2 separate regions of the Homo sapiens genome follow, and region 1 is linked to region 2. The links come from fine-mapping of genetic effects on gene expression. A gene starts in region 2. The other region holds a variant in brackets. All regions are shown on one strand. Distances are from middle to middle.

What was found. PIP is the estimated chance that this variant, and not a neighbour inherited with it, causes the effect.
Region 1: its variant is the best candidate, but not a certain one, in a credible set for the expression of C5AR1 in whole blood (TOPMed, PIP 0.82).

Annotation. Positions count from the first base shown.
Region 1 is chr19:47,396,697-47,401,085 of GRCh38, reverse strand. No RefSeq gene overlaps it. Among named protein-coding and RNA genes, the nearest start is that of MEIS3, 21 kb to the left of the region's middle. RefSeq lists an enhancer at 2,261-2,928. The variant T/C (reference allele first, on the strand shown) is at 2,456.
Region 2 is chr19:47,307,858-47,312,246 of GRCh38, reverse strand. C5AR1 (complement C5a receptor 1) reads right to left here and starts at 2,386. Exons shown (of 2, transcript NM_001736.4): 1 at 2,349-2,386. The coding sequence starts at 2,351.

The sequences.
Region 1 (4,389 bases), 89 kb before region 2:
GGATAGGCCAGGAGTGGTGGCTCACGCCTGTGATCCCAGCATTTTGGGAGGCAAATCACTTGAGGACACAGCCTGGGCAACATGGTGAAACCCCATCTCTACTGAAATATAAAAATTAGCCGGGCATGGTGGCGGGCGCCTGTAGTCCCAGCTACTTGGCAAACTGAAGCAGGAGAATCCCTTGAACCCAAAAGGTGGAGGTTGCAGTGAGCTGAGATCATGCCACTGCACTCCAGCCTGGGTGACAGAGCGAGACTCCATCTCAAAAAAGGAAGAAAGGGATGAGTGTCACAAAAAGCAGAACAGGCACAGGATGAGAGCATGGGCTGCCACTTTTATGACCTTATGGAGCCCTTCAGTAAGTGCTGTGTCCCAGGCTCTGTTCTAGGAGCCGTATACCTGGGAATCTGTTAAACCCTATGGCAGCCCCAGGAGGTGGGTGCCATCACGGTCCCCATTTCCCAGGTGAGGAAGCAGGACCAGAGAGGTGAAGTGGCTCATCCAAGGTCACACAGCTGGAGATTGTGAGGCTGGGCTCCATTTGAACCCAGGCAGCCTGGCTCCAGGGCCTGGACACTAACCACTGTGCTTCCAGCCTCTCTTTTCTTTTTTTTTTTTTGAGATGGAGTCTCACTGTCTCTCTCACCCAGGCTGGAGTGCAATGGTGTGATCTCAGCTCATTGCAACCTCCACCTCCCAGGTTCAAGTGATTCTTCCACATCAGCCTCCCGAGTAGCTGGAATTACAGACACCCACCATCATGCCCGGCTAATTTTTGTACTTTTGTAGAGATGGGGTTTCGCCATGTTGGCCAGGCTAGTCTCGAACTCCTGACCTCAGGTGATCCGCCGCCTCGGCCTCCCAAAGTGCTGGGATTACAGGCGTGAGCTGCCACGCCCGGCCCCAGCCTCTTTTTCTTAAAATAGAATTCTCTGAAATTCTAATTTTTATTTATTTATTTATTTAATTTTTTTGAGACAAGAGTCTCACTCTGTCGCCCAGGCTGGAATGCAGGGGTGTGATTTCAGCTCACCACAACCTCCTCCTTCCAGGTTCAAGCAATTCTGCTGCCTCAGCCTCCCAAGTAGCTTGGACTACAGGCATGCACCACCAGGCCTGGCTAATTTTTGTAATTTTTAGTGGAGACGGGGTTTTGCTGTGTTGGCCAGGCTGGTCTCGAACTCCTGACCTCAAGTGATCCACCTGCCTCGGCCTCCCAAAGTGCTGGGATTACAGATGTGAGCCACCGTGCCTGGCCTGATTTTTAATTTTTTAAATTGCTTTTGTTTTTGAGATAGGGTCTCCCTCTGTAATCACAGCTCATTGCAGCCTCAAACTCCAACACTCCAGCAATCCTCCTTCCTTAGCCTCCTCAGCAGCCGAGACTACAGGCACAAACCACCATGCCTGGCTAATTATTTATATTTGTTGGTAGAGATGGCTTTTCATGGTGTTCCCAGGCTGGTCTTGAACTCCTGGGTTCAAGCCGTCCAGCCGCCTCGGCCTCCCAAGATGCTGGGAATACTGGCGTGAGCTACCGCACCTGGCCTGATATTGTTTTCGTGACTATGATGAGAGTTTCTCTCTCCCAAAACTCCCCGGGACTCAGGTGGGATGGGTGATGGGTGGACAGCAGGAAGGACTTCAAACAATCACCCTCCCTTGATGGCAGGTGGGGGAAGGAATATGGGGGAGGGGCAGGGCCAGGCCAAGACTTTGAGGTCGGCTGAGAGGGGAGGCAGTTGCTTAGTGTATCCCCTGCCTGGTGCTGGGAAGGGGTCCCAGCGGCTGGTACACTGGGAAGTTGGGGAGGGGACAGCTCTCCTCTTCCCCTCCTCCCCCTTTTCCCAGAATCTGGAAATGCCTCTCATTAACTTAATCATCTCTAATTAAACCAATTGGATGTGCCTGGGGAGAAGGGAAATTGGGTGGGAGGTTAATTGTAACTAAAAATATCTCCCCCACTTCCTGAGAGGAGGAAGCAGCCACTGGACCTGCGTGTATGGTAGGTTGGCATCTCAGAGCAGGAGGGGCCCCTGGTTCAGGGGCATCCTGGGTCGTGGGGTGAGGACCCAGGGGATAGGCAGGCGGGGCTCGGGGGCTGCAGTTGGTGTGTGTCTGACCCCTGTGTGTCCTCTGGGCCTGTGGACTTGGAATGTGGTGGTCGAGGGCAGTGGTTGAGGGATGTCGGTGTGGCTGGAGGCACCGCCCGTGTCCTGTTGCTGAATGTGGTGTGTGTGTCTGTCGCTGAGTGGCGGTGTCCGTCACACGTGCCTTGGTATAGGTTGTGTGTCTCTGTGTAGGTTCCTGACTGTGACGATGAGACTTTTCATGCGCGTCCGTGTGAAGAGACCACCAAACAGGCTTTGTGTGAGCAATAAAGCTGTTTATTTCACCTGGGGGCAGGAGGGCTGAGTCCAAAAAGAGAGTCAGTGAAGGGAGATAAGGGCGGGGC[T/C]GTTTTACAGGATTTGGGTAGGTAAAGGAAAAAGGGGGGTTGTTCTCTGGTGGGCAGGAGTGGGGGGTCACAAGGTACTCAGTGGGGGAGCTTTTGAGCCAGGATGAGCCAGGAGAAGGAATTTCACAAGACAGTGACATCAGTTAAGGCAGGAACAGGCTATTTTCACTTCTTTTGTGGTGGAATGTCATCAGTTAAGGCCGGGTAGGGCATATTCACTTGTTTTGTGATTCTTCAGTTACTTCAGGCCACCTGGGCGTATACGTGCAAGTCACAGGGGATGCGATGGCTTGGCTTGGGCTCAGAGGCCTGACATTCATGCCTTCTTATATTAATAAGAAAAATAAAACAAAATAGTGTTGAAGTGTTGGGGCGGCGAAAATTTTTTTGGGGGGTGGTATGGAGAGAGAATGGGCGATTTCTCGGGGCTGCTTCAAGCGGGATTAGGGGCGGCGTGGGAACCTAGAGTGGGAGAGATTAAGCTGAAGGAAGATTTTGTGGTAAGGGGTGATATTGTGGGGTTGTTAGAAGAAACATTTGTCATTTAGAATTATTGGTGATGGCCTGGGTACAGTTTTGTATGAATTGAAAAACTAAATGGAATAAGAGAAGGAGAAAAACAGGTATAAAATGTCTAAGAATTGGGACGACTCAGGACATCTGATTAGAGAGTGCCTAAGGAGATTCAGCATAGTCCTGCCAGCAAAGATTATTTGTTTACTTCAGGAGTTAAGAGTGGCAGTTTGGGGATAGCACGAGGAGATATCAGCTGTGATGGCTTGGAGAAACAGTGTAAACCGGCAGTGTGAACAAGAGCAGGGCACGTATGAGTAGTTGAGAACGGAGAATAGGAGTATGACTAGACAGAAGATAGTAGGGATGACAAGTTTTTTGGGGGCACAGTCTAAGTTGGTCCGGTGTCTGGAATGAGACTGGGGCCTAATAAAAAGGATTGTCCATACAGGAGCTCAAATAGGCTGTACCCTGCAGCATTCTGAGAAGCGAAAGAGGTAAAAGTATTGTCCAGTCCTTTTTAAGTTGGCGGCTGAGCTTGGTGAGGTGTGTTTTTAAAAGACCTTTAGTCTGTTCTACTTTTCCTGAAGACGGAGGACCGTAAGGGATATAAAGGTTTCACTGAATACTAAGAGCCTGAAAAACTGCTTGGCTGATTTGACTAATAAAGGCTGGTCTGTTATCAGACTGTATAGAGGTGGGAAGGCTAAACTGAGGAATTATGTCTGACAGAAGGGAAGAAATGACTGCGGTGGCCTTCTCAGACCTTGTAGAAAAGGCCTGTACCTATCCAGTGAAAGTGTCTGCCTAGACTAAGAGGTATTTTGGTTTCCTGACTCGGGGCATGTTGAGTAAAGCTAATTTGCCAGTCCTGGGTGGGGGCAAATCCCTGAGCTTGATGTGTAGGGAAGGGAGGGGGCCTGAATAATCCCTGAGGAGTAGTAGAACAGCAGATGGAACACTGAGAAGTGATTTCCTTGAGGACAGATTTCCACGATGGAAAGAAAATGAGAGGTTCTAAGAGGCGGGCTAGTGGCTTGTACTATAGCATAGCCTGCCTTTGCTGGTGTGTGGCGATTAGGCCTGGTGGAACTGCCATCAGTAAATCAAGCGTGATCAGAGTGAGGAACAGGAAAGAAGGAAATATGGGGAAATGGGGTGAATATCAGGTGGATCAGAGAGATACAGTCATGGGGGTCAGGTGTGGTATCAGGAATAATGTGGGAGGCCAGATTGAAGTCCGGGCCAGGAACAATGGTAATTGTGGGACTTAAGAGTGAGTGCAGCTGAAGGAGCCGGGGAGCAGAAAGTACATGCGTCAGGTATGAGGAAGAAAATAGATTTTGGAAGTTATGAGAAATGTAGAGAGTGAGTTGAGCATAGTTTGTGATTTTTAGGGCCTCTAAAAGTATTAAAGCAGC
Region 2 (4,389 bases):
AGGCATGGTGGCAGGCACCTGTAGTCCCAGCTACCTGGGAGGCTGAGGCAGGAGAATCACTTGAACCCAGGAGGTGGAGGTTACAGTGAGCTGAGATCACACCACTGCACTCTAGCCTGGGCAACAGAGCAAGACACTGTCTCAAAAAACAAAAAGATAAGGAGACAGAAGCACGGAGAGGACAGATCTCCGCAACTATTTCATAGTAGAGACAGAAGCTGAGCTCGGTTTTGGGGTTCCCCGCATCACACTAGTCCTTACTTTGTTCCCTAAGCATCTGTGCTCTCAGGCATCTGTAAACTGTTTCTGGAAGGATCCACCACAAACTGGCATCCCATGGTTGCCCCAGGTAGGGTAGGAGGCAATGAAAAGGAGTCAGAGGGCCAGGTAGGGTGGCTCATACCTGTAATCCCAGCACTTTGGGAGACCAATGTGGGTGGATCACGTGAGGTCAGGAGTTCAAGACCAGCCTGGCCAACATGGTGAAACTCCGTCTCTACTAAAAAGACAAAAAATTAGCCAGGCGTGGTGGCGCATGCCTGTAATCCCACCTAGTCGGGAGGCTGAGGCAGGAGAATTGCTTGAAGCCGCGAGGCAGAGGTTGTGGTGAGCCAAGATCGTGCCATTGCACTCCAGCCTGGGCGACAAGAGTGAAACTCTGTCTCAAAATAAAAGGAAAGAAAAGGAGTCAGAGGCTCTGGGGTAGGCAGGGAGAATGAGTTTTTTTTTTTCTATGTTTGTTTTTTGAGATGGCCCTGTTGCCAGGCTGGAGTGCAGTAGAGCAATCTCGGCTCACTGCAACCTCTGCCTCATGGGTTCAAGCGATTGTCGTGCCTCAGCCTCTCAAGTGCTGGGACTACAGGCGCCCGCTTATATGCCCAGCTAATTTTTGTAGTTTTGGTAGAGACGGAGTTTCACCATGTTGGCCAGGATGGTCTCAATCTCCTGACCTTGTGATCCGCCCGCCTCAGTCTCCCAAAGTGCTGGGATTACACGCATGAGCCACCGCGCCTGGCCGAGAATGAGTTTTTACCAAGTATCATTTGGTACTTTGGAAAATGTTTTGGAAAGAAAAAAAAAAAGAAGAAGAAGAATCAGAGAGTCCCGTTTGCCCAAGTCGGATCTCAAGGGTGGAATGCAGGAATGAAGCAACATCAGACCCCTCCCTGGTCCATCCAAACCATCTTCCGTTTCCTCTTTGACACAGATGAAGCAAGGCAATGCCTGTGTTACAGCAGGTGCTGAATCGCAGCTCTGCTGGCTCAGTGCCCAGGCCTCCAGACGCAGGGATGACAGGGACCCTCATTTAGCCTGGGGTGCATTCCTTCTGACACTCACAGAATCCATGGCATAACCTGCTTCTGCCACCAACCATGGAGGGTCCCCATCCATCTCTGCTCCTGCCTGGGCCTCAGTTTCCCCATCTCTGTCATGCAGAACATCTCAAACGACCAGGCATAATGGCCTCATGCCAGTAATCCCAGAGCTTTGGGAGACCAAGGTGGGAGGATGGCTTGAGGCCAGGAATTTGAGACCAGCCCTGACAACATAGCAAGAACCCATCTCTACAAGAATAAAAATTTTAAAAATTAGCCGGACATAGTGGTGCATGCCTGTGGTCCCAGATACTCAGGAGGCTAAAGAGGGAGGATCACTTGAGCCCAAGAGTTCAAGACTGCAGTGAGCTATGATGGTGCCACTGCACTCCAGCCTGGGCAACAGTGCAAGACCCCAAGTCGAAAAAGAAAAGAACATCTATCTGCAAGAGCATCTGAGTAACTTGACCATTCCTCCAAACTGGTTCTTTCCAGCCTCCCAACATTTTCTCTGCCATTCCCACTGCCTGGAAGGCCTGTTCTAGATTTCTTCACTTGTGGAATTCTTTAAATAAAAAAAAAAATACAGACAGGGTCTCACTATGTTGGCCAGGCTGGTCTTGAACTCCTGGCCTCAAGCAATCCTCCCGCCTTGGCACAATCCCCAATGTGCTGGGATCACAGGTGTGACCCACTGCGCTCGGCTGCTTGTGGAATTCTTAGTCACCTTACTAGACCCAACTCAAGGGTCCCCTCCCCTGGGGAATCTTCTCGGGCCCCAGCCCCACGAGGTTGCTGTTGCTCCCACAATCTTGACAATCTTATTCCCATGGCCACATCCCAGCCCTGGAGTGTGAGAGCCTGGGATGCAGGAGAGAGGGAAGGTGGGAGGTGGAAGACAGGGAGAGAGAAGGAAAGGGAGAGACAGACAGAGTTGACGGCGAGAGTTGGGGAGAGAGAAGGACCCACTGGAGCAAAGATGGGAGGGACCCAGGACAAAGTTTCCTGCTCCCATTCCCCTTCGAGACTCACCATGTTCTGGTCTCCTGGGCTCCCCGAGGATCGAAGGTCCCTCCTGCCCAAGGGCTGTGGTTTTTAAAGCCCCAAGGGAAGATGCAGGGAGGAAATGACCGTCTTTCTCTCTGGGGCTCTCATTGGTCTGCACACTGGGCACTGAGGCCAGAGCTCCCTCTGCGGGGCACACACCCAGGGGACTCTAACCACCTCCTCCCAGGCAGAGAAGGGGGGCCGGCGCTCGGAAAACCGAGGAAGCTCCTGTGCAGGCTCGGCCCCTCTCCTGGCCTTGGTTTCCCTATTTGGGGCCATCTCTTCTCTCTCATTTTTTTTTTTTTTTTTTTGATAGAGTCTTGCTGTGTCGCCCAGGCTGCAGTGGAGTGGTGCAATCTCGGCTCTCTGTAACCTCTGCCTCCTGGGTTCAAGCACTTCTCCTGCCTCAGCCTCCCGAGTAGCTGGGATTACACGTGTGTGTCACCACCCCCGGCTAATTTTTTGTATTTTTAGTAAAGACGGGGTTTCGCCATGTTGGCCAGGCTGGACTCAAACTCCTGAGCTCAGGCAATCACCCACCTCAACCTCCCAAAGTGCTAGAATTACAAGTGTGAGCCACTGCGCCCGGCCTGGAGCCATCTATCTCTTTCCTCCTAAGACGCCAGCCTTCTGGGCAAAAGCTCAGGAATGCAGTTGGCTTAAACCCCTCCCTTGGGATTCAAGAAAGCAGAGACTGTAACCTCCACTCAGCCTCCCGGCCAGGCTGATTTGAGACCCAAAGAGGCTGAGCTAGTCTGCGGAGGTAGCCCAGCATTTAAGTATATTTTACTGTTAAATCTTCCTTCTAGGGCCAGGTGCAATGGCTCACACCTATAATCCCAGCACTTTGGGAGGCTGAGGCAAATGAATCACTTGAGGTCAGGAGTTCAAGACGAGTCTGGCCAACATGGTGAAACCCTGTCTCTACTAAAAATACAAAAATTACCCAGGTGTGGTGGCAGGTGCCTGTAATCCCAGCTACTTGGGAAGCTGAGGCAGGAGAATTGCTTAAACCTGGGAGGCAGAGGTTGCAGTGAGCCAAGATTGCGCCACTGCACTCCAGCCTGGGCAACAAAGCAAGACTCTGTCTCAAAAAAAAAAAACCATCGTCACCAGCCTGGCCAATATGGTGAAACCCCATCTCTACTAAAAATACAAAAATTAGCCAGGCGTGGTGGTGGGTGCCTGTAATCTCAGCTACTCAGAAGGCTGAGGCAGGAGAATTGCTGGAACCCAGGAGGCGGAGGTTGCAGTGAGCAGAGATTGCACCATTGCACTCCAGCCCAGGCTGACAACACCAAGACTCAATCTCAAAAAAAAAAAAAAGAAAAGAAAAAGAAAAGAAAAGAAAAAAATCATCCTTCTAGGGTTATAAAGTTGGCAATAGAAAATGGAGCTACCCTGTCCCCCAACTACACAAGCCACAACCATCTCCATCTATTATTGTTACATTGTAATATATAATGAAATAATTATACAATTCAACATAATGTAGAATCAGTGGAATCCCTGAGCTTGTTTTCCTGTAACGAGATGGTCCTATCTGGGGGTGATGGGATACAGTGACAGATCATCAGGCATTAGATTCTCATAAGGAGCTTGCAACCCAGATCCCTCACATGCGCTGTTCACAACAGGGTTCATGCTCTTTTTTTTTTTTTTTTTTTTTTTGAGATGGAGTCTCACTCTCTCACCCAGGCTAGAGTGCAGTGGCACGATCTCGGCACACTGCAACCTCCGCCTCCCAGGTTCAAGCGATTCTCCTGCCTCAGCCTCCCGAGTAGCTGGGACTACAGGTGCCTACCACTGCACCCGGCTAATTTTTGTATTTTTAGTAGAGACGTGGTTTCACCATCTTGGCCAGGCTGATCTCGAACTCCTGACCTCGTGATCCACCCGCCTCAGCCTCCCAAAATGCTGGGATTACAGGCTTGAGCCACTGCGCCCGGCCTGGGTTCACGCTCTTATGAGAATGTAATTCCGCCCCTGATCTGACAGATCAGGCGGTAATATGAGCGAAGGGGCG